4 separate regions of the Homo sapiens genome follow, and regions 1, 2 and 4 are each reported to be linked to region 3. Evidence: microRNA targets listed by miRTarBase, many of them from high-throughput screens and not tested one by one. Region 3 holds a microRNA gene; each other region holds the end of a gene's coding sequence.

The links. The annotated mature microRNA hsa-miR-4507 reads CUGGGUUGGGCUGGGCUGGG and lies in region 3 at 4,156-4,175, opposite strand. An mRNA with a match to its seed (bases 2 to 7 or 8) in the 3' UTR can be bound and repressed. Matches are read on the target gene's strand: a 7mer-m8 pairs with bases 2 to 8, a 7mer-A1 pairs with bases 2 to 7 and ends in A, and an 8mer does both.
Region 1: miRTarBase lists SCAMP3 as a target of hsa-miR-4507. Seed matches in the 3' UTR shown: 7mer-m8 at 5,643-5,649.
Region 2: miRTarBase lists LCORL as a target of hsa-miR-4507. Seed matches in the 3' UTR shown: 7mer-A1 at 1,591-1,597 and 7mer-A1 at 1,033-1,039.
Region 4: miRTarBase lists PPM1N as a target of hsa-miR-4507. Seed matches in the 3' UTR shown: 7mer-A1 at 3,233-3,239 and 7mer-A1 at 3,094-3,100.

What each region holds. Positions count from the first base shown.
Region 1 is chr1:155,250,408-155,256,989 of GRCh38, forward strand. It overlaps SCAMP3 (secretory carrier membrane protein 3), which reads right to left. Exons shown (of 9, transcript NM_005698.4): 8 at 6,267-6,384; 9 at 5,574-6,012. The coding sequence ends at 5,866. ENTREP3 (endosomal transmembrane epsin interactor 3) reads right to left here and starts at 5,076. Exons shown (of 12, transcript NM_006589.3): 1 at 4,246-5,076; 2 at 3,993-4,049; 3 at 3,677-3,787; 4 at 3,452-3,571; 5 at 3,218-3,325; 6 at 1,326-1,498; 7 at 1,095-1,194; 8 at 688-757; 9 at 1-414. The coding sequence starts at 4,470. RefSeq lists an enhancer at 1-110.
Region 2 is chr4:17,841,099-17,846,445 of GRCh38, forward strand. It overlaps LCORL (ligand dependent nuclear receptor corepressor like), which reads right to left. Exons shown (of 8, transcript NM_001394446.1): 8 at 89-4,803. The coding sequence ends at 4,790. It overlaps NCAPG (non-SMC condensin I complex subunit G), which reads left to right. Exons shown (of 21, transcript NM_022346.5): 20 at 1,212-1,281; 21 at 2,204-3,767. The coding sequence ends at 2,327. Among named protein-coding and RNA genes, the nearest start is that of NCAPG, 33 kb to the left of the region's middle.
Region 3 is chr14:105,853,970-105,861,974 of GRCh38, forward strand. MIR4507 (microRNA 4507) reads right to left here and starts at 4,206; the gene lies at 4,155-4,206. It overlaps MIR4539 (microRNA 4539), which reads right to left and starts at 3,603; the gene lies at 3,544-3,603. MIR4538 (microRNA 4538) reads right to left here and starts at 4,273; the gene lies at 4,196-4,273. It overlaps MIR4537 (microRNA 4537), which reads right to left and starts at 5,584; the gene lies at 5,515-5,584. It also overlaps IGH and IGHM. RefSeq lists an enhancer at 7,820-8,005.
Region 4 is chr19:45,498,109-45,505,440 of GRCh38, reverse strand. It overlaps PPM1N (protein phosphatase, Mg2+/Mn2+ dependent 1N (putative)), which reads right to left and starts at 6,998. Exons shown (of 5, transcript NM_001080401.2): 1 at 6,030-6,998; 2 at 5,375-5,492; 3 at 4,880-4,985; 4 at 4,731-4,791; 5 at 2,928-3,424. The coding sequence starts at 6,968. The coding sequence ends at 3,356. LOC107985314 (a long non-coding RNA gene) reads left to right here. Exons shown (of 2, transcript XR_007067269.1): 2 at 3,894-4,631. RefSeq lists a silencer at 6,701-6,770.

The DNA of each region.
Region 1 (6,582 bases), not on the chromosome of region 3:
TCGGGGCTCGGGTGGGCGGGGCTGCGGCTGGGCGGCCCCCTCCCCGGGGGACCCGCCGCCTCAGCTCGGGGAAGCAGGGTCCCACCCAGGGCGGCCAGCCCTCCAACCGGTGGCAGCTGCGGGCAGCTGTGGGGGCACCCAGTGGGGGTGGAGCTTCAGGGGCAGAGCAGGAATAGGAGCGGGCAGCCCGTGGGGGGCGCCGTGGCAGGGGGCTTTCCTCGAAGGGGCCCCGCAGGCCACAGTCCAGGCTGAGGCAGTAGCCGGCACGGCTGCGCTGGATGGAGCGAAAGAGAACGTAGTCCACGGAGCGCACGGAGCCCTGCAGCTCCAGCAGGCACGAGTCCTCCGACGGGCTAGAGCCCCCAGGGAGGTCACCAATGGCTGACAGCACCAGAGACCCGCTGTCCATGGACACTGTGGGCGGCAGGGGGCGCTGTGTAGCACCAGCCTGGCCTGGCCTAGCCCTGCCCAGGCAGTTCCTCTTCTCCCAAGCCCAGCCTCTAGGGGCCACTGTGCCTCCAGCTTTATCTCAGAGGAGAAAAATAAGTCCAGGGTTCCAAGTTGCCACAGCCCTCCTATGTCCCCAAACCACCAACTCCGCCTTGTTTTCCCCTTCTATTGTCTCTACCCACCCCAGCTATCCCTGGCAGCCCCGCCCTTGTCCACCCCTCATTACGCCCTGCTCACCGTCTACAATGGAGGCCACTCGTTCACAGATGCACGAGCCATCGTGAAGCTGAGGGTCAAAGAGAGTGGCCTGCAGAAGACACAGGGTCAAGGGTTCAGCCCTACACACTGAACACCCCCATGTGCTAGACAGAGCTCTGGAGACTTAGATTCCAGACCAGCCTTGTCCCTTTGTACAAGTCACTTAATTGTGCAGCCTCAGCTTCCACGTCTGTATGGCAGAAATGATAGCTTCCAACCCACTCACCTCACCAGGCTCTAGGGAAGATCAAAGGCAACAGTGGGCATGCTGGTGCTGTAAAGACCTTGACCACTGTTACTATCTTTATCCAGAGGCTACAGCCTGTTCAGCTTTCCAGGCTACAACCCGGCTCCCCAGCCCGCCCCAAGCCGTGCTGTGCTCTCACCTGGCTGTCTCCTCGTAGTCCCATGACTGCCTCATAAGAAGGGGGGCAATCGGTAGGGTACAAGGGCACTGGGCTGTCCATGGAGCCATTGTACGTGATGCTGGCAGATGAGGAAGAGGGTCAATGTAGGAGAAATAATTCCCCCTCCACAAAGATCCCTCTCTCCAGCAATCCAGGCCCAGCCCCAGTCCCCTTCCTTAGCTCCCCCAGCAAGACCCCACCAGGCCTTACCTCTGTGCATCTGTTTCTGAGCTGCAGGTATACTCTGGGGGATAGTAGGGCGGTGGGGGCACAGGCGGGACAAATTCCTCCAGGTCCAGCATGGTGTGTAGGAGAGGGGCTGGGGGCGGGGACGTGCAGCCCAGAGGTCCCAGTGGGCCTGAGACTGACCGCTCAGGGGCCAGCTGCTGGGGAAGCGAGCAGGTCAGCAAGTCTGGATTCTGGGAATACAGCTCCTCCTGGGCCCCCAAACTCCTCTCTCATCTACATTATTTTTTCTGGCCCTATCCCCTGAGAGAAGCTCTTGTTCTGGCCCCTCCCTCACCCAAAATCAGCTCTCCTTAACCCCACGCTCACCCTGTACCTCTAGCTCTGGCCCTGCCCACCCACAAATTCCTCTTTATGGCCCCACCTCCATCCAGAAGCTCCACACATTCTGTGTCTTCACAGGAATGTCCACCCTTTAGCCTCACCTCCATCTAGGACCTTCTTTTTTTTTTTGAGACAGAGTCTGACTCTGTTGCTGGAGTGCAGTGGCGCGATCTCAGCTCACTGCAACCCCCACCTCCCAAGATCAAGCAATTCCCATGCCTCATCCTCCTGAGTAGCTGGAATTATAAGGGTGTGCAACCATGCCCAGCTAATTATTATTATTATTATTATTTCGAGACGAAGTTTCACTCTTGTCGCCCAGGCTGGAGTACAATGGCTACATCTCAGCTCACTGCAACCTCTGCCTCCCAGGTTCAAGCGATTCTCCAGCCTCAGTCTTCCGAGTAGCTGGGATTACAGGCACCCGCCACCACACCCGGATAATTTTTGTATTTTTAGTAGAGATAGGGTTTCGCCATGTTGGCCAGGCTGGTGTCAAACTCCTGATATCTGGTGATCCTCCTGCCTTGGCCTCCCAAAGTGCTGGGATTACAGGCATGAGCCACGGAGCCCAGCCTAATTTTTGTAATTTTGTGTGTATATATATATATATATATATATATATATATATTTTTTTTTTTTTTTTTTTTTTTTTTGAGACGGAGTCTTGCTCTTGTCGCCCAGGCTGGAATGCAGTGGCACCATCTCAGCTCACTGCAGCCTCTGTCTCCCCGGTTCAAGCAATTTTCCTGCCTCAGACTCCCAAGTAGCTGGGATTACAGGCACCCGCCACCACACTTGGCTAATTTTTGTATTTCGTTTGTTTGTTTTTTGAGATGGAGTCTTGCTCTGTCGCCCAGGCTGGAGTGCAGTGGCACTATCTCAGCTCACTGCAAGCTCTGCCTCCCAGGTTCATGCCATTCTCCTGCCTCAGCCTCCCGAGTAGCTGGGACCACAGGCGCCCGCCACCACGCCTGGCTAATTTTTTGTATGTTTAGTAGAGATGGGGTTTCACCATGTTAGCCAGGATAGTCTCGATCTCCTGATCTCAGGTGATCTGCCCTCCTCAGCCTCCCAAAGTGCTGGGATTATAGGCACGAGCCACTGCGCCCGGCCCGATTTTTGTATTTTTAATAGAGACAGGGTTTCGCCATGTTGGCCAGGTGGGTCTTGAACTCCTGGCCTCAGGTGATCCGCCTGCCTGGGCCTCTCAAAGTGCTGGGATTACAGGAATGAGCCACCGTGCCCAGCATAGGACCTTCTTGACTCTACCCCACCATCCAGTCCCATTCTCTAAAGCACCCTCTCCTGGTCCCAGACCAGCATCACATACTTAACTCACTCCCTGCCATCTCCCCTTCTCATCCTCCCCACTAAACATCCATTCCTCCAATAGATGAGGATAATAGATAACCCATAGCCCCTGGTGCTCAAAAGCCAGATCTGTAGCCATTGTTCCCTCAGGCAAGTCTCAGCACACACACCCCTGCCCCCACCATACCTGCGTGCCCTGGCCCCTGCTCCCTTCTCACCGTATGCACGAGGTCCAGGGAGAAGATTTGGATGCAGCAGACAATAGCAGAGAGTGTACAGATTATAGCGGCACAAATGGTGAGCCCACAGACGCTGAAGAGCAGGTTCTGGGGAAGGGAAAGGAGGAGAGGAGTCAGGAGACGGCTAAGTTCCACACATTATGGGCCTGTGAGTACCCCAGCAGGGGAGGCAAGAGTGAGAACCAGGAGGATGTTTGCAGGGTGCAAGCTCACCTTGAGGGCCCCTCGGGCTTCATCACAGGTGGAGTTAGGGGCAACTTTCAGTTCCTGCCCCGACTCTGGACAGGGCCGGAGGAGGGGAACAGAGGGACAGCACACACAGACCTTTCCTTCCTGAGTGGAGCAGGGAGGGTGAGGCAGCCTGAGTCAGGACAAACTGAGGTGTCCTGCACACCTCCCCCAGCCAGTTCTTTCCAGCTCTCCCTCCTCAAATCTCACCAGAGAGCACTGTTGGAAGTCTCGGGCCAGTTGAGCATTCTTACAGGAGAGAACAGAGCCAGCCATGCTAAGCATGACACAGAGCACCGAAAGCAAGGAGAAGAAGGAGATCTGGGGAAAACAGGGTGCAGACTCAGGGCTGGGACCCTCATGAGTACTCCTCTGCCACGGACAGAGTCCCCCTCCTTCACAGACACTTCGTGCCCACCCGGCTGGCACCAACTGGGGAGCCAGTTCCCTTCTTGAGGACATAAATGGGCTTCCCCTTGCGTGCTGGGCACCTGCCTCCCAGTGGGCACTGGACCCTGGCACCTACCACTAGAGTGAATGGCCGCTTCCAGGACACAATGCCAACCACCCCGGAGAACGCCAGCTGGGGACAGAGTGGGCACAGGCTCAGCCTGGCAGGGGAGGCTCCTGAGTGAGCCCCTCACCACAGGATGCACCCAGCCCTGTAAGGAGGCAGAGGACCAGGAGAGGGAGGAGAGGCAAGCATGTGGACTTGCAGCTGGTGTGGAGGGTGGGGCCCGAGGAGCCTCCCCCACCCAACAACTGTGCACCCAACTCACCGAGAACCCAGCCCAAGACGGGCAGGACCTCTTGATGCTCTCGGTGGTGGTGACGGAAGAGGCCACCATGCTGAAGGTGACCACCAGGATGCCCAGGAGCACTTGGACCAGCCCCAGCGTAAGCAGGGCCTGCAGCCAGGGTCGGTGGAGGCGGAGGTGGGTAAGGCCCCTGGTGCTGGGCCGGCTGGTCAGCGAGCGGCTGGAGTCACTAGGCGAGGGCATCATGCCTGCTGCCCGGTTGCCTGCGCCTCGCTCGGCCCTCCCTGGCACTTGGGAGCATCTCAGAGGCGCCCAAGGCCCCGTCCTTTCTCCTCTCCACCCCACTCGCTCTAGAGCCCACCCCCTGGCTGGGTCCCCTGGGGCATGGCCGAGGGACGCCAGCTGTGGGGGGGGCCAAGCGAGGGGCGTCACGGAGGGACCGCGGAGTGCTCCCTCCCCACCACGGGCACTGGACGGGCACCGTGCCCGGGGCGACGATGAGGACGCGGGGGCACCGGCTCATCGCATCTCCCTAGGGAAGAGGGGCACCGAGAAGGGCCGGTCCAGGAGTGAGGAGGGGGCGGCGGCCTGGAGCCCAGGGAGGGGTGGGGAGGGTAAAAGCGGGAAGGATGGAAATAAGTCTAGAGAAGAGGGGAGGGGTCGGCGTGGGGTGACTCTAGAGGCGCGGTCGGTGTGCCCTCAGGGCGTCCAGTAGGATCCGGGGCCGCCTGGTGGGGAGAGGCCGCGGCGCCGCTGTCTCCTGTGTCGCCTGTCCCGCTCCCCTCCCCACCACGCTCCGCTCCCCGAGCTCCGGCTGCCGCAGGTCGGGGACTAGAGAAGGGGGATGGGAATGGGGATGGTGCGGGAAGGAGGGGCATGGCGGCGAGGGCCGGCGCGGTGCACCCCGGGAGTTGTAGTTCGGGACTGAGACCCTGTCGGGGTTGGGGGATCCCGCGGCAGGGCGAGGCAGTCGGATAAGCGCTCCTCCAGTCCCTGCCTCGCTCTGGACCCTGGCTAGGCTGCTAGTGATCCTTTGGGCCTCCACTTGAGCCCCATCCAGCTTTTCAGGCTCCAGGCCCGCGTATTCCTTGGCGTTCCCGGCAGAGGCGGTGGCTCTTCCCCGTCATTAATGGAGAGGGGTGGGGAGCAGGGCTCCCTGGCGTCTCCGGGTTTCGCGTTTCCGTGGACTTCCCACCTCCTTCCTGCGCCAGCCACTCGGGCTCCACCGCCCCGCCCCTCATATCTCCCAGTTTACACTAAAGCCGGGTCCGACCTTCCCACCTCACTCCACACTCTCCTTTCTCTTTCATAAGGCCTAATTCCCAATGAAGATTCAGGAAACGGGGATGTCAGTTCCAGTTCCACTTTCTTTTTATTTAAATAACCGAAGCAACAGCCGTGGCACAGCAGAGGGAAGCTGGGTTGGGGCGTGTGAGAGGTGGCAGCAGTGTGGCCTGATGGGGGGACTAGGTCACAGTGAACTCCCCACACGCCTGTCAGGTTCAGCAGTCATGGCCATAGGATTGGGAGCACTACGGAGGAGCCATCAGTTAGTGATGTCTCTCCAAGTCCCAGAGACCTTAGGGACGGGAGCTAAGTCAGCTCCCTCAAGTAGCAGGGCCAGGGCATCCCAGTCAGGGGTCACGGGGCCCGGAAGGCATTTTCAGCAGCCCCAGCGGCTGCATTGGCAGCTGCGGTTCGCACCGCAGGGTTGGAGAAGACACCAGCAGCAAATTCTTGCTGGGCCTTCTGAAAGCTGGCACCTGTGCGGCGGTATAAGGAGTGGATCTGCAAGTAGAGGACAAAGACATTACCGCCCATTCCAGCCACTGGTTCCCCACCCCAGCCTAACAGCATCACTACCACTCAGCAGCCTGCTGCCCAGCACACACACTCACACACAGAAACACACACCCCAGAGGTCCATTAGCTGAGAACAACCCAGCAGCCTGACCTGTGCCAGTTGCTCCTGAATGTTCCACCCACGCCCCTGGGGACCCATGATCTCACCATCCCGGCCCCACCTTCGACACAGCCCTCACCCGTTTCAGCATGACAATTCCTAGCACAGCAATGCCAGTGAAGAGCAGGGCGACCAGCAGCATGAGCACGGATACTGCTGTGTTGCCCTTCGGCACCACCAGAGCAGAGATCCAGCCACTGTAAAGGGAAGGATGTACCAGTGAAGAGGGGCTCCTCAGCTTCTCCACTGGTTATGTCACCAGCATCCCCTGTTCCTACCCTTCCCATCAGCAGTGGCTCCCTGTCAATCGAGCAGCATTCCAAGCACCACAATCCCAAACTGTATCTAATCTCTTCATAGTTTAATTCCAGTTTCTGAACCATTAGCCCTGAGCT
Region 2 (5,347 bases), not on the chromosome of region 3:
CCAACTTATTTCCCAAGGGCTATCCAACAATAGGGGATCTGTTGGCAAAGTAAATGCTGACTATTAGGGGGTCACTTGGAAAAAAATCTGAAATTCAAGATCTTTTTATTGTTTTATTATTTCCTCATTACAAAAGCAATGCATGCTTATTACAGAAGAATCAGAAAGTACATCCAGACAAACTACTATAAGGAACACTAATAATCCCACCCATGAGCCAACCATGATTTTGATTTTAGAAATCTATTTTTTAAGGCCCTTTTCGATGCAGATTTAATTTTTTCTAAAATGGAGTCTGGTCATAATATTGTTTTGTAACCAGTAAATTATTTAAATACCAATTGCTGGATATTGTTCCAAATTAGTCCCATATTGTTGGATGTTTTCTTGGGGATAAATGCATTAGTAAAAGCAGGTAAGGAGTAGAAAAAAGTGTAACATGAATGAAGTAGAGTATATAATTTTCAGACTGTCACATTGAACAGTTTGGTTTTGATCAGATTTTTTTTGTGGTATATCACACCATGAGAACACCATCCTTTTTAATAGACCAAACTTCATATATTCATATTGTTTTATTCCTTATAAATGAGAAACATCACAAGCCAAACTTTGTCTTACTCCTTAACCTTGTAAATTTCTAGTAAGTAGAATCTTATAATCCCCAGTATATAAAGGTTCTAGTTTTTACATTGAAATATATTTTAGAACACATTTGAATTGGTCATGTATGTTATTTTACAAGAAGCCATTATTACCTTACTATGTTTTATCACCTTCCAAGAAAAAAAAAAGTTGTTTCTTTAGCACCTGTTTATGCACCTAACCTACCTTTCTAACCCTTAATTTTCATGAGTCTCCACAGACTTTGTGCTATAGCAATAATAGAGGTACTTCATTATAACACATTTTTCATATACTGTCCTCAAATACATTGAACTAAAATTTGCCTTCTTTTAACTTGCTTGAAATTTCCTTATTTTCCCTTACTCATTATTAGTGCTTACAAAATAAATTAAGTTTTAATCTTGCTTGGGTTCCTTTTTCTGTGGCAGTGATAACTGGTACCAAGATGGCTAGAACAAGTAGGAGATACATGTGTTGAAAGGATTGTTGTGTTGAAGACAAAGGATTTAGTTAGCCTAGAAACTAGATTAAAAACAAAAAGCAACTGATAATAAATCCTGATAATGAATTATACTATCTTCAAGGACAGAGAAAAGTGACAGTTTCAGCTAGGACGAACAGGAGGTGTCAGACTGCTGAAGCCGACTCTGAAAGGTATGTCATGCATGTCTAGAATATATGGAGGCCTATCTTCACTTTTTATTTCTACAAGTAGAAAAAAACTAATTTTCTTGCGAATGAGAGAGAATATATAACAAGATAGTGAAAACTATAAATAGCTGTCTTAGGTATATAGTCTAAAATTCCATCATCAAGAGCATTTGACTTCTTACGGCGTGTTTGCTTTTGCCTATTAGCTGGCATGGTCTTTAGTACTATCTTTAATATGTTGTTTCAATTTTTAATTACATGATGTGACTCCTCTTTGATCTTCAGTTAGCAAACTCTTGATTTTGATAATATTTGGGTTCTCTACACTTACATACTGATAGAATAATTCTGTCTATAATTTGGGTATATTGTGTGGTAGAGTGTTTTATTTTTGGCTTCTGTCAGTCAAGCCACTGTTAGAGCTGAAAGTTGGTAGCTGTCTTGTATTCATTTGCAAAATTGTATTGTGTGTATTTTCAGTACATAGTTTTACACTGTTGATTAAATTTGTCTTTTTTGGGGGGAAACTTGTTTTTTACTATGTTTTTGGAATTTATTGCTTAAATCAAGAGAGAGAACTTAATTTTTTTGTCACTTCTTGAGTTTCAAAGAAATCTCTTTTGGACAGTTATGGTCCTCGTTTAATTACAAGCTTCATTACAAGTTTGTGGCTTTTTTTCCTGTATAACACCAGGTTCTGTTATAGTATATAAAATCATTAGCTAGATTTTCCCTGATTCACTTTGCTAGATAGCCAAGTCAGTGTTTTTTTGACATTGAGATTTTAGTTTTAAGCTAAGTCAATGGAATCAGGCTATCAATTAAACACTGATAGAATGTGAGTCAGAAACAAAAAAGTTTTATTTATAAATAAACTGGTTTTAAAGCTTGTATCTAAATTCGTGTATTTTCAACATCTATTTAGTGATCATGAAGTTCCAGAACCAGAATCAGAAATGAAGATGAGACTACCAAGACGAGCCAAAACCGCAGCACTAGAAAAAAGTAAACTTAACCTTGCCCAATTTCTCAATGAAGATCTAAGTTAGGAAAGACGATGGAGGTGGAATCCTTTAAGATTATGTCCAGTTATTTGCTTTAATAAAGAAGAAGTTACCCTTGTCAAAATCAGAACAAACCTGATGTCTTTCTGAAGATTTTCTGCTGTGCGCTTCCACGTTACTTTGGCCTGTATTAAAGCAGTAGAGCAGCATCAGTTATTATAGTCCAGAAAAAGTGTGCATCAGTCAGTCACACAGATTTATCACAATCTGAGGTGGGCCTAGGAATCTCATTTTTAAATAGTCTCTCCAAGTGATTCTTATGAACTCTTTATGTTTAAAATCATGTCATTATGGAAAACTTACAAGTGTAACTAGCTAGTAGCTTGCATTTGAGAAGCTTATGACTTAGATGGGCAGAATCAACAAAGATGAAACCGCCTGAGGACACATTTAACAAGTAACATTTCTAGGGAAAATGAAGGAAGTACCACAAACTGGCTAGAAAGGAGCTTATCAATCACCAGTGAGGAAGACCAGTATAACGTTCAACAACAGTTATTTTGACAAAAACTTATTTTGTGATTCCTACAGTGAAAACATTTTTGGTGATATCTGCCTGGGAAATCTCTCTTCCTAAAGTATTTGTATATGGGAGTCCTTGTTTGTGAATGTTTCCTGGATTAGGGAGGTGTCAACATAAATGTATTATTAACCATGAAGCTGCTCGCTATATTTTTGGCATAACAAAATAATATTTATTTACTGTGGATAATAATTCTAGTGGGAATATAATGTGACAGGAACTTCTCTTTATATACGCTACCAATTTATGAGCACTATTCACTGTCAATTTCATTTCTTGTCTTTTGAAATTGACACTTGGCCTGACTTACGAAACTTGTACTATATGAAATTGGTCCTCTTTTCTGCAATACCCAACGAAACACCTTTTCTCTTTATTATTCAGAAATGTCCTAACATGGATCTGTTTGTTTTAATAATTGTGCTTTTTTTAGGCTTATCATCTACTAGAGGCCATTTACTTAAGGTGAAATTTTAAGATGGAGCTAAAGTAAGATCACTGGTTTTTAGAACCAAATTGCTATACATATGTGCCTCATAGAACTTATAAAAGGAGTCAAAGTTTCAAAGCAAGATAGTTATTAAGCAAAAGGAAAAATGGTAATGATAGAAAGTCAGTTAAAAATAGATGATTGTTCTTCATTCTGTTTGTTGGCTCTGTGTTCTCCTGTGCTTCAGATTCCTTATGTGTTGTTGTTTTAAAGACAATTTGCAGGGGGTTGGGAGAAGGACTGAAAAGGTACATTAAGTGTGCTGTAAGGAAAAGTCTTAGAAACATAATAAGCTAAAATCCCATTCACACATGGCCAGGCTATCCAAAAAGAAAGGAGCCATGTTCTCATGTGGTTTACCATACCAAAGCTTGCTTTCTCTGGCATGGGAAAAATAAATTTAAGCACCAAACCTTTAGTATTCTGAGTATTCAGTTTTTAGACATAGTCATGTAGCCATTGCTGAAACTGTGCTTTGCACTATTAAAGGTAGGGAATGTCCTGCTTTTAAAAGTCATCCCTTTAACTTTAAAATAAAAGGCTAAGGTACAATAAAACAGATGTAAATCCATTTACCATTTTTCATTCAAAACTGGTAACTTACAGAAACCACATAGTATTTTTCTCTATCAAGAGGCACAGATTTGCTGAACAGTAAACATGCAATTGTGCCATTGCTCTTAAAGCCCACAGACTTAGATTTAAAATACAGAGAAAGAACTGATAAGCTCACATTTTCCTGTGAATGGGAAACATGCTACTTGACAAAAAGCTATGATCAACTTTTTTTCTTCTGTACATATATAACGTTGAAGGAGATTTACTTCTAAGAGATACCTTTGCCTTTTCTTTCACCAATTTGCTTCGAGGTAGTTGGTATCCACCTGTTTTACAACTGCTCATGGGTCAGGTTATCATCACAAATCTTTACAATACTAGCTTTATAAATCACAATGTGTTATATATTAAAACTTTGTGCACAGAAATAAAACTAGGGACAATTACGTATTTAAACTTAGGGCATAAAAAATTCACATAATACCACTAAAAGAGAAACATCAAAATCCGTTTACAAAATTCCACAATGATCTGATGTAAAACATGTAAAAAAAACATATAAAGAATATAATCAAAATGATTAATGCTAATGATTTAATATAAAGACAAATCACAGGACTAGAAATACTTCAAGATCAATTGATAAATGCTTATTGTTCAGAAGGAATACTGACATACAAAATAAAGATAGTGCAAGAAGAACTGCAATCTATTTCTCTTCGCTTTTGAGATTTTGGTTATGAACTGTACAGCTCGTTAGAGATGCTGTTGTCAAATTCAGATTCCATTCAATGGGACGATTAAGGCACATCTTAATGGGGCTCAAAGGGCAACTTGCTGTATTCTCATCAGACACATTCAGTTTCTCATCAGTTTTCACTTGTAGCATGCTGGAAGAAAAAGTGTAAGGCATTTTAGTTTTACTTTAATTTCAAAGTAATTATCAACCTTGTAAAAGAACATTTAGTTGTAGTAGTGTTTGGACCTCTAAATTTTAGCATACATAAAGCATTTATCCTGAAAATACAACAGTTTTCTCTCCCGCCTACTTACTGAACTAAATACAATGAATAATGCCATGTAACCTGTGTAACTTGAGAAGTTACATATGACTGAAAAAGTAACATTGCATATATGGATTACATCAGTATACATCAGAAATTATTTAACCTTGTGAGCCTGGTAGGATTCAACCCTTTTAACTTGCCCTTTTGTGGATCAGAATGAGAGCCACTTTGAGAAAAAAAAGGGATCAACATTTGTTGAATGCCTATTACGTTCTAGCCACCTTCACATGTATTGTCTCATCTGAATTTTGCAAAAGCCAAGTAAGGTTGGTATGCTTATCCTCATAGTAAACAATAAAATCAAGACTCTGAGAGTTAAGTACAAATATGCCTGAGGTCATACAGTCACCTGCCTGGAACTGGAATA
Region 3 (8,005 bases):
TGCCTGTATACGTGTGGCCTTGCTTTCAGCTTTCTTTCTGGAAGCAGTAGGAGGAATGGCAAGTCTGAGGTCAGCCTGCTGTGAGCAGCTGCAGGGAATTCAGGGGTTTCTAGAAGCCACTGAGGCACGCAGGTGGGTGAGGCAGGGGTGGGGGCTGTGGAGGAAGGTGTTCTGCAGGGGAGGCGCAGGGTGGGTGCAGCACAGCCGCCGCCCCAGTAGGCCAGAGCATCGTGCACTCAGGACCAGTATCTTTTGAATGGATCTTTTTATTTCTAATTTTATAAGATGCAACATCTCACCCCGTTGACACGGTTAGTTTGCATGCACACACAGAGCGGCCAGCCGCCCCGAGCCTGTGGGCAGGCCAGCAGGGTCAGTAGCAGGTGCCAGCTGTGTCGGACATGACCAGGGACACGTTGTACAGGGTGGGTTTACCGGTGGACTTGTCCACGGTCCTCTCGGTGACCCTGTTGGGCAGGGCCTCATGGGCCACCACGCAGGTGTAGGTCTCCCCCGTGTTCCATTCCTCTTCGGACACGGTCAGGATGCTGTGGGCGAAGTACCGGCCTGGGGCCTGGGGCTCAGGCATTGGGGCGCTGGTCACATACTTCTCCGGGGACAAGGGCTGCCCCCTCTGCATCCACTGCACGAAGACGTCCGCGGGAGAGAAGCCCGTCACCAGGCACGTGATGGTGGCCGACTCCCGCAGGTTCAGCTGCTCCCGGGCTGGTGGCAGCAAGTAGACATCGGGCCTGTGCAGGGCCACCCCTGTGAACAGAGATGGTGGTGAGGGCGGGGCAGTGGGGGGACCAGCCTGTGGGCTGGGGTTGAGTCCCCTTTTCCCCAGTTGCCCAGACAACGGGGGAGTGAGGGGTGCTTTCCACCATGCCCCAGAGGCCAAGGGAGGTCCCAGGGAGTGCAGGAAGAGGGGCAAGAGTGGGGCCTACCCTTGGGCCGGGAGATGGTCTGCTTCAGTGGCGAGGGCAGGTCTGTGTGGGTCACGGTGCACGTGAACCTCTCCCCGGAATTCCAGTCATCCTCGCAGATGCTGGCCTCACCCACGGCGCTGAAAGTGGCATTGGGGTGGCTCTCGGAGATGTTGGTGTGGGTTTTCACAGCTTCGCCATTCTGGCGGGTCCAGGAGATGGTCACGCTGTCATAGGTGGTCAGGTCTGTGACCAGGCAGGTCAACTTGGTGGACTTGGTGAGGAAGATGCTGGCAAAGGATGGGGGGATGGCGAAGACCCGGATGGCTGTGTCTTGATCTGGAGTCAAGAGAAGGGAGTCAGAGGTGGGGCAGGTGTGGATGTGGGCGGAGGCATGGTTCCCACCCAAAGAGTAGCAACTGCCTCTGCCGAGCCCAGGGGTCCTGCCGCCCGAGCCCCTGCCCTTGGCCGCTCTGGGAAGCCAAGGCTCAGGGAGTAGATGGCTGCATCCGGGGTGGCGAATGCCAGACCCGAGTGGACCCCTGTGTGTCGGTGGGTGCTGCCCCTGGGGACAGGTCACTCACCGGGGACACACATGGAGGACGCATTCTGCTGGAAGGTCAGGCCCCTGTGATCCACGCGGCAGGTGAACATGCTCTGGCCGAGCCAGTCGCTCTCTTTGATGGTCAGTGTGCTGGTCACCTTGTAGGTCGTGGGCCCAGACTCTTTGGCCTCAGCCTGCACCTGGTCCGTGGTGACGCCAGACCCCACCTGCTTCCCCTCGCGCAGCCAGGACACCTGAATCTGCCGGGGACTGAAACCCGTGGCCTGGCAGATGAGCTTGGACTTGCGGGGGTTGCCGAAGAAGCCGTCGCGGGGTGGGACGAAGACGCTCACTTTGGGAGGCAGCTCAGCAATCACTGCAGTGAGGGACACGTGTCAGCCCGGTGCCCGCCACTCCCGCCCCCTTCGGCTCCCTCTCTGTCCCGGTGGCTGGGCCCGGCCCTCACCTGGAAGAGGCACGTTCTTTTCTTTGTTGCCGTTGGGGTGCTGGACTTTGCACACCACGTGTTCGTCTGTGCCCTGCATGACGTCCTTGGAAGGCAGCAGCACCTGTGAGGTGGCTGCGTACTTGCCCCCTCTCAGGACTGATGGGAAGCCCCGGGTGCTGCTGATGTCAGAGTTGTTCTTGTATTTCCAGGAGAAAGTGATGGAGTCGGGAAGGAAGTCCTGTGCGAGGCAGCCAACGGCCACGCTGCTCGTATCCGACGGGGAATTCTCACAGGAGACGAGGGGGAAAAGGGTTGGGGCGGATGCACTCCCTGAGGACCCGCAGGACAAAAGAGAAAGGGAGGGTGAGGAGCTGCCTCCTCGTGCCCTGCCTGTCGGGGCTGAGTGGCGTTCTGAGTGCCCTCACTACTTGCGTCCCGCTGTGGCTGCCCCACCAAGGCCGAGCCCACCTGCAGGCCTCCAAAGCCCAGACTGTCATGGCTATCAGGGGTGGCGGGGCCGTGGTGAGGCCTCAGGTCTTTGTCCAAGGCTGCTGGGGCTGCAGGCCTCAGCCCATCCTGCTGCAGGGCCCAGCACTGAACACCTGGACAGACCTGGGGTCTCCTGGAGCAGGCTGAGCCATCCCTGCCACCATTCAGCTGGCTGCCCTGCTGCACTCTGAGGCCTGACTGCCCCTGGCTCCCTGCTCAGAATGGCTGAGGGCTCAGGTTTGGGTGGACCAGGCCTGCTTTCCCCCGAGGCATCAGCACGTAGGTGCTGCACACACTCAGCTCCCAGCACATGCAGCTGGAGGGCCCAGGTTGCATACCTGAATGTGAAGCCTGGAGCCACACACCCCGCAGGCAGCCAATAGAGTCCCTCCAGCCCAGCTTCTGCTGCCCCCAGCTCAGTCACACTCCAGCTACCCTGAAGTCTCCCCAGGCAGACAACCCAGGCCTGGGAGTGAGTATAGGGAGGGTGAGTGTGATGGGGAACGCAGTGTAGACTCAGCTGAGGCTATCCATCTATGTCCAACAAGATCATGAAGATTGGCCCAGTGCCATGTCCTCCAGTTCATCCCAGCCCAGGCCAGCTCAATCCAGTTCATCCCAGCCCAGGCCAGCTCAATCCAGCCCAGCCCACCCCACCCCAGCTCAGCAAAGCCAAGCTCAGCTCAGCCCAACTCAGATGAGCTCAGACCAGCTCAGCCCAGCCTAGCTGAGCTCAGACCACCTAAGACCATCTCAGCTCAGCCCAGCCCAGCTAAGCCCAGTATAGCCCAGCCCAGCTAAGCCCAGTATAGCCCAGCCCAGCTAAGCCCAGTATAGCCCAGCCCAGCTAAGCCCAGTTTAGCCCAGCCCAGCTAAGCCCAGTATAGCCCAGCCCAGCTAAGCATAGTTCAGCACAGCCCAGCTCAGCTCAGCACAGTTCAACCCAGCTCAGCCCAGCTCAGTGCAGCACAGCCCAGCTTAGCCCAGCCCAGCCCAGCTCAATCCAGCCTGGCTCAGCCCAGCCCAGCCCAGTTTGGCTCAACCCAGCTTGGCTCAGCCCAGGTCAGCCTGGCTCAACTCAGCCCAGCCCAGCCCAGCTCTGCTCAACCCAGCTCTGCTCAACTCAGCCCGGCTCAGCCCAGCTCAGCCCAGTTCAGCTCAGCCCTGCTCAGCACAGCACAGCAGAGCTCAGCTCAGCCCAGCTCAGCTCAGTTCAGCTCAGCCCTGTTCAGCACAGCACAGCAGAGCCCAGCCCAGCCCAGCCCAGCTCATCCCAGCTCAGCCCAGCCCAGCCTAGCTTAGCTCAACCCAGCTCAGCACAGTTCAGCTCAGCCCTGCTCAGCACAGCACAGCAGAGCCCAGCTCAGCCCAGCTCAGCTCAGTTCAGCTCAGCCCTGTTCAGCACAGCACAGCAGAGCCCAGCCCAGCCCAGCTCAACCTAGCCTGGCTCAGCCCAGCCCAGCCCAGCCCGGATCGGCTCAACCCAGCTTAGCTCAGCCCAGGTCAGCCCAGCTTAACTCAGCCCAGGTCAGCCCAGCTTAACTCAGCCCAGCCCAGCCCAGCTCAGCCCCCAGCTCTGCTCAACCCAGCCCAGCTCAGCTCAGCTCCGCTCAGCCCAGTTCAGCCCAGCTCAGCCCAGCCCAGCCTAGCTTGGCTCAACACAGCTCAGCTCAGCCAGCCCAGACCAGCTCAGCTCAGCCCAGTCCAGCTCAGCTCAGCCCAACCCAGTCCGGCTCAGCCCAGCCCAACCCAGCCCAGCCCAACCCAGCTCGGCTTAACCCAGCTCGGCTCAGCCCAGATCAGTCTGGCTCAACTCAGCCCAGCCCAGCTCAACCCAGCCCAGTTCAGCCCAGCTCATCCAAGCTCAGCTCAGCCCAGCCCAGTTCAGCCCAGCCCAGTTCAGCTCAGCTCAGCCCAGCCCAGTTCAGCCCAGCCCAGTTCAGCTCAGCTCAGCTGAGCCCAGCCCAGCCCAGTCCGGCTCAGCTCAGCCCCGCCCCACTCAGCCCAGCTCAGCTCAGCCCAGCTCAGCCCAGCTCAGCTTAGCCCAGCTCAGTTCAGCCAGGCACAATCTGGCTCAGCCCAGCCCAGCCCAGCTCAGCCCAGCCCAGCCTAGCTCAGCACAGCCCAGTTCAGCTCAGCTCAGCTTAACTCAGCTCAGCTCAGCTCAGCCCAGCCCAGCCCAGGTCAGCTCAGCCCAGCCCAGCCCAGCCCAGATCATCCCAGCTCAGCTCAGCTCAGCTCGGCTTAGCCCAGCTCAACCTGGCCCAGCCTGGTCCAGGTCAGCCCAGCCTGGACCACCCAGCCCAGCTCAGCTCAGCCCAGCTCATCCTGGTTCAGCTCAGCTCAACCCGGCTCAGCCCAGGTCTGCTCAACCCAGCCCAAATCAGCTCAGCCCAGCCCAGGTCATCCCAGCTCAGCCCAGCACAGCCTACTTCAGCTCAGCTCAGCTCAGCCTAGGTCAGCTCAGTTGAGGTCAGCTCAACTCAGCCCAATCCAGCCTGGCTCAGCCCAGCTCACCCTAGCTCAGCTTAGCTCAGCCCAACTCAACCCAGCCCAGCCTTGCCCAACCCAGCTCAGCTCAGCCCAGCCCAGGTTAGCCCAGCCCAGCCTCGGCTTAGCTCTGCTCAGCTCGGCCCTGCTCGCCTCAGCCCGTTCAGCCCAGTTCAGCTCAGCTCAGCTCAGCCCAGCTCAGCCCAGCCCTGGTTAGCTCAGCCCAGCTAAGCTCAGCTCGGCTCGGCTCTGCTGAGCTTGGCCCAGCTTGGCTTAGCCTGATACAACCTGCTCAGCCCAGTTCAGCTCGGCTCAGCCCAGCCCAGCCCAGCGTAGCTCAGCTCAGCTGAGCCCAGCCCAGGTTAGCTCAGCCCCAGTCCAGGTCAGCTCAACTCAGCCCAAACCAGCCTGGCTCGGCCCAGCTCACCCTAGTTCAGCTTAGCTCAGCCCAGCCCAGCCCTGCCCAACCCAGCTCAGCTCAGCCCAGCCCAGGTTAGCCCAGCCCAGCCTCGGCTTAGCTCTGCTCAGCTCGGCCCAGCCCAGGTTAGCCCAGCCCAGCCTCGGCTTAGCTCTGCTCAGCTCGGCCCTGCTCGCCTCAGCCCGTTCAGCCCAGTTCAGCTCAGCTCAGCTCAGCCCAGCTCAGCCCAGCCCTGGTTAGCTCAGCCCAGCTAAGCTCAGCTCGGCTCAGCTCTGCTGAGCTCGGCCCAGCTTGGCTCAGCCCGACACAGCCTGCTCAGCCCAGTTCAGCTCGGCTCAGCCCAGCCCAGCCCAGCGTAGCTCAGCTCAGCTGAGCCCAGCCCAGGTTAGCTCAGCCCCAGCCCAGGTTAGCTCAGCCCAGCTCAGCTCTGCCCAGGTTAGCTCAGCCCCAGTCCAGGTTAGCTCAGCCCAGCTCAGCCCTGCCCAGGTTAGCTCAGCCCAGCTAAGCTCAACTTGGCTCAGCTCAGCCTAGCTTGGCTCAGCCCAGCACAGCACGCTCAACCCGGTTCAGCTTGGCTCAGCCCAGCCCAGCCCAGCCTAGCTCAGCTCAGCCCCGCTCAGCCCAGCCTAGCTCAGCTCAGCCCCGCTCAGCCCCGCTCAGCCCAGCCCAGCCCAGCCTAGCTCAGCCCAGCTCAGCCCAGCCTAGCCCAGCTCAGCCCAGCCCAGCTCAGCGCAGCCCAGCCCAGCTCAGCGCAGCCCAGCTCAGCTCAGCTCAGCCTAGCCTTGCTCAGCCCAGCTCAGCTCAGCCCAGCTCAGCCTAGCCTTGCTCAGCCCAGCTCAGCCCAGCTCAGCCCAGCTCAGCCCAGCCCAGCCTAGCTCAGCTCAGCCCCGCTCAGACCCGCTCAGCCCAGCCCAGCCCAGCCCAGCTCAGCCCAGCCCAGCTCAGCTCAGCCCAGCCCTGCCCAGCTCAGCCCAGCTCAGCCCAGCTTAGTGCAGCCAAGCCCAGCTCAGCTCAGCTCACCTGGTGCAACTTAGCCCAGCTCAGCTCAGCTCAGCTCAACCCAGTTCAACTCAGCCCAGTTCAGCTCAGCTCAGCCCAGTTCAGCCTTGTTTAGTCTAGGTCAGCTTAGGTCAGTTTTGCCCATCTGAGTCCATTTCTGAAAGCTGGATGGAGTTGTCATGGCCAGAAATGGTCAGCCCACCAGACCTGCTTGTCTCAGCTAAAGCCATCTCATTGCCGGGTTCCTGCACAGCCAGGCTGGCTTCCATCTTTTGTCTCCCTCTACTTGATACCCCAGTTCCCTGCAGTCCTGCCCCAGCGCCACCTGGGTTTTGGTTCCAAAGCATTACCAATCATTACCACCCTCCACTACCTGGGTGGAATATTTCTTTGCTGCTTTAAAGTCATTAAAACATCTTGAGAATGAGACCAAGAATTTAGGAGCCTGTGCTGTGATAAAAATGAGCAGGTCCCCTTGCTCTAGAAGTGGCAGCATATCTTCTGCACCAAGAGGAGGGTATTGAGATGCTCAGAGCCTCCACCTTCCCGGAGCATCCCCTCCCTTCTGAGTCTGCAGTAAACCCCTGCCTTTAAATTCCCTCTAGATAACAGTCATCATTGGAAACAACCAAGAAATGCATTTTATCTGAATTTGCCACTTAAAATTCTGCCATTTACCATAAATCGCTTTGGAAGGCATGGGCTACTTTCAAGGGTGCGATGATGACCTACAGTCAATGACTTAGACAAGGGCGATGCCAGTGGGGCTTGGTATGTTCTCAAGCATCATTACCCATGCCATCCCCATTCAGAGGTTGTGGAGCAGCTCGTGCGACCTCTCCTTCAAATGGGCTTTAGGGAAAGTTAAATGGGAGTGACCCAGACAATGGTCACTCAAAAGACTCACATAAATGAGTCTCCTGCTCTTCATCAAGCAATTAAGACCAGTTCCCCTTCTAGTGGAAATAAGACGTCAAATACAAAGTTTTAAGAGAAGCAAATGCAGCAGCGGCGGCTGCCTGTCTCTTACCATGTCGGGCGCCTGGTCACTGCGAGCCTTGCAAAGCTTTGGCATGGAATCATTCCTCCAAGTCCATTAACAAGGGCTGGGGCCTGAGCAGCCAGTCGGCCCGGCAGCAGAAGCCACGCATCCCAGCTCTGGGTAGTCCGGGGAGACCCAAAGCCCAGGCCGGGCCTGGCAGCCACCCTCCCAGAGCCTCCGCTAGGCCAGTCCTGCTGACGCCGCATCGGTGATTCGGAACAGAATCTGTCCTTCTAAGGTGTCTCCACAGTCCTGTCTTCAGCACTATCTGATTGAGTTTTCTCTTATGCCACCAACTAACATGCTTAACTGAAATAATTCAGGATAATGATGCACATTTTACCTAAAACTTATCCTAAAGTGAGTAGTTGAAAAGTGGTCTTGAAAAATACTAAAATGAAGGCCACTCTATCAGAATATCAAAGTGTTTCTCCTTAATCACAAAGAGAAAACGAGTTAACCTAAAAAGATTGTGAACACAGTCATTATGAAAATAATGCTCTGAGGTATCGAAAAAGTATTTGAGATTAATTATCACATGAAGGGATAACAAGCTAATTTAAAAAACTTTTTGAATACAGTCATAAACTCTCCCTAAGACTGTTTAATTTCTTAAACATCTTACTTTAAAAATGAATGCAGTTTAGAA
Region 4 (7,332 bases), not on the chromosome of region 3:
GGGTTTAGCTGTGTTGCCCAGGCTGGTCTCAAACTCCTGGGCTAAAGTGATCAGCCTGGCTCAGCCTCCCAAAGTGCTGGGATTGGAGGTGTGAGTCACCAGGCCCAGCCGGCAAACATTTTCTGTAAAAGTTCAAATAGGAAATATTTTAGATATGCTAGACATAGGGTCTGGTTTACACACTCTTCAGTTTTTCTTTTTTCTTACAAGGCTTAAAAACTGTAAAAAAAACTCTTCTTAGCTTAAGTGCTGTACAAAACAGGTAGCAAGACCCCTGTGTAAGAGAACGCTTGCATATGTACATAACGATCTTTACGGTAGCAGTGATGTGAGAGCAAGAAATTGGAAATAGCTTAAATGTTCATCAAGAGGACAGGGGAGGCTGGGCACAGTGGCTCACGCCTGTAATCCCAGCACTTTGGGAGGCCGAGGCGGGTGGATCACTTGAGGTCAGGAGTTCAAGACCAGCCTGGCCAACATGGTGAAACCCCGTTTCTACCAAAAACAAAAAATTAACCAGGCATGGTGGCACACACCTGTAATCCCAGCTACTTGGGTGGCTGAGGGGCTGAGGTGGGAGGATCACTTGAACCCCGGAGGCGGAGGTTGCAGTGAGCCAAGATCGTGACACTACACTCCAGCCTGGGAGACAGAGCAAGACTCCTCAAAAAAAATTAAACAAAACAAAACAAAAAAAAGATGAGGGCAGGGAATAGTGAAACCCTTGGACATCCTTTTCTGAAGCACGGAGTGAGCAGCAACTTAAGGAGGTGTGGACTGGGCAAGGTGTGTCATGCCTGTAATCCCAGTGCTTTGGTGCTTTGAGAAGCCAAGGCAGGAGGATCACTTGAGGTCAGGGAGTTTGAGACCAGCCTGGACAACATAGTGAGGCCCCATTTCTCTCTTTTTTTTTTTTTTTTTTTTGAGACAGAGTTTCATTCTTGTTTCCCAGGCTAGAGTTCAATGGCGCAATCTCGGCTCACTGCAACCTCCACCTCCTGGGTTCAAGCGATTCTCCTGCCTCAGCCTCCCAAGTAGCTGGGATTACAGGCATGCACCACCAAGCCCAGCTAATTTTTGCATTTTTTAGTAGAGATGGGGTTTCTCCATGTTGGTCAGGCTGGTCTCGAACTCCTGACCTCAGAAGATCTGCCCACCTGGGCCTCCCAAAGTGGTGGGATTACACGTGTGAGCCACTGCGCCTGGCCGAGACCCCATCTCTAAAAAAAAAAAAAAAATTAACTGGGTGTGGTATCATCCATCTGTGGTCCCAGCTACTTGGGAAGATGAGGTAGGAGGATTGCTTGAGCCCAGGAGTTCGAGGCTGTGGTGAGCGATGATTGCGCCATTATACTCCAGCTTGGGATACAGACTTAGACCTTGTCTCTTAAAAAAACGGGTGGCATGAAGTGTGTAAATGACGTGGGTGACATAGAATGAAAACATCCATTAAGTGGATAAAAAGTTGCCAGAGATACGAAGGGAATGAAAAAAATCAAGGAAACACCCAGAATACCATATATTAATACATGTAAAAAGTCCACTTTAAACTCATTGCAAGGGTTACCAGTGAGATAGAGAGTGTGGGGTTAATTTGGTGGTCACAGAGATCTTTTTTTTTTTTTGTAGAGACAAGGTTTTGCTATGTTGCCCATGCTGGTCTCGAATTCCTGGAATCAAGCTGCCTCGGCCTCCCAAAGTGCTGGGATTACAAGTGTGAGCCACCGCACTTGGGAGGTCTCAAGTCTGTCTTGAAAATGCCAAATTTGGCCGGACCTGGTGGCTGGCTCATGCCTGTAATCCCAACATTTTGGGAGGCCGAGTTGGGTGGATCACCTAAGGTCAGGAGTTCGAGACCAGCCTGACTAACATGGTGAAACCCTGTCTGTAGTAAATACAAAAAGTTAGCCTGGTGTGGTGGCACGTGCCTGTAATCCCAGCTACTTGGGAGGCTGAGGCAGGAGAATCACTTGAACCCAGGAGGCGGAGGTTGCAGTGAGCCGAGATTGCACCATTGCACTCCAGCCTGGGCAACAAGAGTGAAAACTCTGTCTCAAAAAAAAAAAAAAAAAGGGGGGAAATTTTATCCTGCTTCTAAGCCTTCATACTGATTGTTCCCTCTGCCTTAGAACACTCTTTGGGGTATTTGCGGAGCTGACTCTTCTCTGTCAGGTCTCTGCTCAACTGTCCCCTCCTCAGAGACCTTTCCTGATTCCCCTGTTTCAAAAGCCACCTCCCCCACCACGGAAAATTGAGTGGCTGAAGTGTGAGAGGGATAGAGAAAGACTTCATTGTATGCCATCTTGCACTCTTTGCATTTCAAACCAAGTGAATTTATTACCCATTCAAAACTACCTGAATTAAATAAATCAAAATTTTAAAAATTGGAAAAAGTAAAAAACCCGAAGTAGCTCCCCTAGTCATTTTCTCAACACATCCTCCTGTTTTATTTTCTTCGTGACACTTGTCAGTGTGCAAGATGACTTCATTTTTTTAGTATTAATTACAGACTGGGCGGGAGAATGGCATGAACCCGGGAGGCGGAGCTTGCAGTGAGCCGAGAGAGCACCCTTGCACTCCAGCCTGGGTGACAGAGCGAGACTCCGTCTCAAAAAAAAAAAAAAAAAAAAAAATTACAGATTGCATCTTGCTATGTTGCCCAGGCTGGTCTCGAACTCTTGGGCTCAAGTGATCCTCCCACCTCAGACTCCCCCAAGTGCTGAGATTACAGATGTGGACCACTGCGCCTGGCGAGATGACTTTATTTATTGATTCCCTTGTTTGCTGCGTCTCCTGACCAAGAGGTCAGCCCCACAGTGGCAAGGATCTTGGTGGGTCAGCCTGGTTCATGACTGTGAGGCTAAGACCTGGCACACAGCAGGTGCCCTGTAACGTATTTGCTAACAGACTAGGCAAAACATGTCTTCTTGTTTTTTACAAGAAAATGTATTTGGAATCACTTATGTAAATAAAGTTTAATAATCAAAACTCTACTTCCCCTCAAAAACAGATGAGTAATAAGAAGGAAAGAGGTTATTGGACTGGGTTATCTCTCAGAATCTGTTCGGCTCTGAATATTTCAAAAACATTTGGTTGGGTTTTTTTGTTTTTTTTTTTTTTTTTTTTTTTTTTCGATTTGGGCTTTTTTCTTTTTGGTCTGGATGTTGGTGGAATTTCCCCATTCGTAAGACTTTTCTGTGAGAGGGAAGTAAGAGAAGAAGAAATAAGCATTTTGGGTTCCTACATTGGCCTTCCTTCCTTCCGCTGGTACATGTAGTTGGGGAAAGGGTCGGTTTTCTTCTTTAGTTCTGTTGAGGCCCCAGAGAAGCAAAGGATCCCCAAAGGACAACAGCTGTCAGGCCTCCATGTCCAAGGCTGAGCCCAAATGCGTGGGGTTGGACTTCCCAGCCCCATCCTGCCCCTTCTGTAACACAAAATGTGGGAGAAGGTAATGAGAAATTCTGTCTTGTCTCCTGGCACCTCTTCCTTTTCCTTTGAGGGACCACCATATCCCATCTCACAATCCATTAAGGTTTGAATGGAGTGGACCCCAACCCCAAGTGCGACCCCAGCCTGGCCAATCAGACACAGTGACTGGTCAGCATGTGACCTGGTGTGGCCAATGAGAACCAGCCCCCAAAGACCACTGCTGCAACTCCGGGGAAATTGGCAAACTTTCTCCACTGGGGAGGACAGGCTGCTGGGGTGTAAGCCTGGAGCTGCAAGTCTCCGCTACCTTAGGAGGAGACCCTGAAAGGTAATGAAGCCAACTCGGAGAAAATAAAAAGAGACCATTCATGATGACATCATCTGACAACTAGATGCAGCCATGCCTTAAGACTCTAAACTCTTCAATTACATGGCCCAGTAAATTCCCTGTTTTGTTTTCCCAGCTTGAATTGGGCTTCCATCTCTCACGACTCAAAGAAAACTGACAAATACCTCCTTCAGCTACTGAGAAATTGTCAACAATCCTCCCTCATCAACATGATAATCACCAAACTCCCACCTCTGCCATGCAAAGGCCTTGGGGCTCTAAACCCAGCTTCCTCCCTCCCATTTCTTCCCTGATGCCACTCCATGCCTTGGTCCACCACTATACATCTTTGGATATCTCCAAATTCTCCTTAGCTATCTGGGCCCCATTACAGCTTCTCTTGTCTAAGACCTGGATCATACTCATGTATGTCCTGATGGTATCTGCTGTGCGTCTAGGCCTTAGAATTGGTCATTAGCATTCCCTGAATGTTTCCATCTTATTCTTGGATGTGGGAAGCACTTGGGCTGATGGGGCACTGCAGAGCGTTGCCGGCTCACATTTCTTGGAGGGGAATCACAGTCTCTTCTCTGCATCTGCGTCTCCCTCCTCATGCCTTGCACAATGCTTCAGGGCTGGGAGTAGGAATGTATTAATATAGCAAGCTGGCTGGGTTGCAGTGGCTCCCGCCTGTAATCCCAGCACTTTGGGAGGCCAAAGCAGGAGGATCCCTTGAGCCCAGGAGTTTGAGACCAGCCTGGGCAACATAGTGAGACCCAGTCTAAAAAAAAAGAGAGAGAGAAAAGAAAGGAAGGAAGAAAAGAAAAAAAGAGAAAGAAAGAAGAGAAAAGAGGAATAAAATATATCAGGCAAATCCCTTATCCTCACTGGCTTCAATTTCCCTGTCACTAAGAGGGGTGGGCGGGGGGGCGTCCCCTCCTAAGAGAAACACTGGAGAACACAGGATCCTTACCTCTCCGCACTCTTCTGAGACCTGGCAGATCTGAGAATAAACTTCAGCAATGACAGTGGCCCTGGAGAGCACAGGAAGGCCCTCAGGAGGGGACTCTCCTCCTTCCACCCCACCCTCATTCCACCCCACCCTTCCTCACCCCAACTCACTTGCAGTCCAGCCCTCCCCCAGGAGGTAAATCTGGGATGTCCTCTGAGGCCAGAGTCCTGAAAACTGTGTTCAGGCTGGGGGGCTTCTGAGCAGAGGCACACAGTTCTGAGAAAGAGTCAAGAGTTAGGCTGGGCACAGTGGCGCACGCCTGTAATCCCAGCACTTTGGGAGACCAAGGCGGGCGGATCACTTGAGGCCAGGGGTTCGAGACCAGCCTGGACAACATCGTGAAACCCCGTCTATACTAACAATACAAAAATTAGCTGGGTGTGATTGTGCATGCCTGTAATCCCAGCTACTCAGGAGGCTGAGGCAGGAGAATCGCTTGAACCCGGAAGGCAGAGGTTGCAGTGAGCCAAGATCACGCCACTGCACTCCAGCCTAGGAGACAGAGCAAGACTCCATCTCAAAAAAAAAAAGAAAAAAAGAAAAAGTTATGGCACAGCCTTCACTGGCCAACCACCCCTCCAGCTGGGCCCCCAGAGTCTGCTCACCAGCGATTCTGCAGCCCAGGGCTGCGTCCAGTGCTAGCTCCCTCCTGATCGCCTCCTCAGAAGGCCTAGGGGCCCCAGGGAAGCAGACCAGGATGCAGGTCATGTTGTCCAGGCTGCCCTGAAGCCGGTGGAGAAAAAGGAGCCCGGTGGGGGAGAGTCCAAGGCAGAGCTTCCCAACAATCCCCAGGTTCAAGTCCCCCACTTCATTCTACTTATGCCCATTTCTTTCGCGTCCCACCCACCTGCCAATCCTCTCTTACTGGGACCAAACCCGGTCCTAGGCGCTCCCAATTGAGAGAACAATGCCTTTTCCCTAAAGCTCCGCCCGCTCTGATGTTTACCTGCTCTTCCACCTTCCAGCACTAATCAATACTTCCGGCCCGGCTCCTACGACCCAGAATCGCCCCTTTCCAAAAGACCACGCCCTTTCTCTTAAGTCCCTTCCACTAACTCTCCCGTGCCTCAAAGCATCCCTCAGGCTCCGCCCCTGTATTTTGGCCCTGCCCACTTCAGGCCACGCCCTTCGCTTGAGTCCTATCCCCTCCTTTGCTAGCTTTACTCTTGCCTCTCTATCAAAGCCCTCCTCCCCAAAACCCCGAGGCTCTCTCCCTCTGCTGCACCAAGCCCCAAAGGTACCACGCCACGCCCCCAGGACCTTGCACAGACACGTGTCCAACAGCTGCGCGCAGAGAAGCTCTGGGGCCAGGCCCAAGCGGAGGCGTGAAGCCACCAGTCCCGCCAGGGCAGCACCAGACACAGTGTCCCAGACGCCATCAGAGGCCAGGAGCATGAACTCGTCCTCAGCCTGGCGTGCCAGTGCGGCCACCTCTGGCTCCGCAGAAACGAGCTGTAGCTCGGGGGGCCTCCCCGGAGCCTCCTTGTAGGTAAAGTCGCCCAACGCTCGCGACACGGCCAGAGAGCCCTCGACGCGGCGGCGGCGGATGGTGCCGCCAGCGGCGTGGATGCGCTCGCGTTCCCGGGGTCGAAGGGGCCGGTGGTCCTCTGTGCTGAAGGCCACGGCGCCAGCGCGGCTCAGCACCGCGCGGGAGTCACCGCAGTGCGCCAGGTACAGAAACCGCGGGGAGACCAGCAACACCACGGCCGTGCAGCCGCCCGTTTCCACGCGGGGCCAGAGGGAGCGCAGGCGCTCGTCGGCGCTCAAGAAGGCTCGGCGCAGCGCCTCGCGCACGCCCTCGGGCTCGCTAGGCTCCGGGCCCAGCTCCTGGAGCACATGGCCTGGCAAATGGCGTGCACCGAAGCGGGCAGCTCGAGCCCCACCGTGGCCGTCGAGGACGGCAAACAAGGCCCAGCCCGGGGGCAGACCAGGTAACGAAAGCCAAGTGCAGTGAGCATCCTCCATGCGCGCGCGCCAGCCTTGCGCTGCGCTCGCCCCGAAGCGCAGGCCCCCAGACGCCTCGGCACCCCCGTGCGGCCGCTGGGCGCGGCGCGGCGCTGTCAACAGAGACCGAGGCCCTTCGGGGGCCCTGCGCCCCGCCTCCTCCTCCTCCTCTTCCTCCCTCCCCTCCTTCTCCCTCTCCTTTTTCTTGCAAGCGGTCCAGAGGAGACGCTGCAGCTGGCGGGCCAGGACCGCCATCCTTCAGCCCTGGGATCAGGAAGGCTCCACCCTGTACACCTGCCCGCCCCCTCCATTAATCCCCTCCGCTGTGAGATTTTAAACCATCTAAATCTCCTTCCTGTCCTTTGACCTGCTCTTTAGGCGGGTCACTAGAAGGAATTACACTTCTGGGTCTCCTGTTTCCTGCACCTACAAAGCGGGGTTTGGGATCTGAATCAGGAAAAAAAAAGAAAAAAGATAATACTGTACCAGTGGCAAACTATTACATAGTACTAATGTGTCACACACTGTTATACATCATCATCTCCAGTTTACATATGGAAGAAGAAACAGAGTCACAGAAGTAACCGGTGTTCCAGGGAAACTAATTCTAGAATCTGTG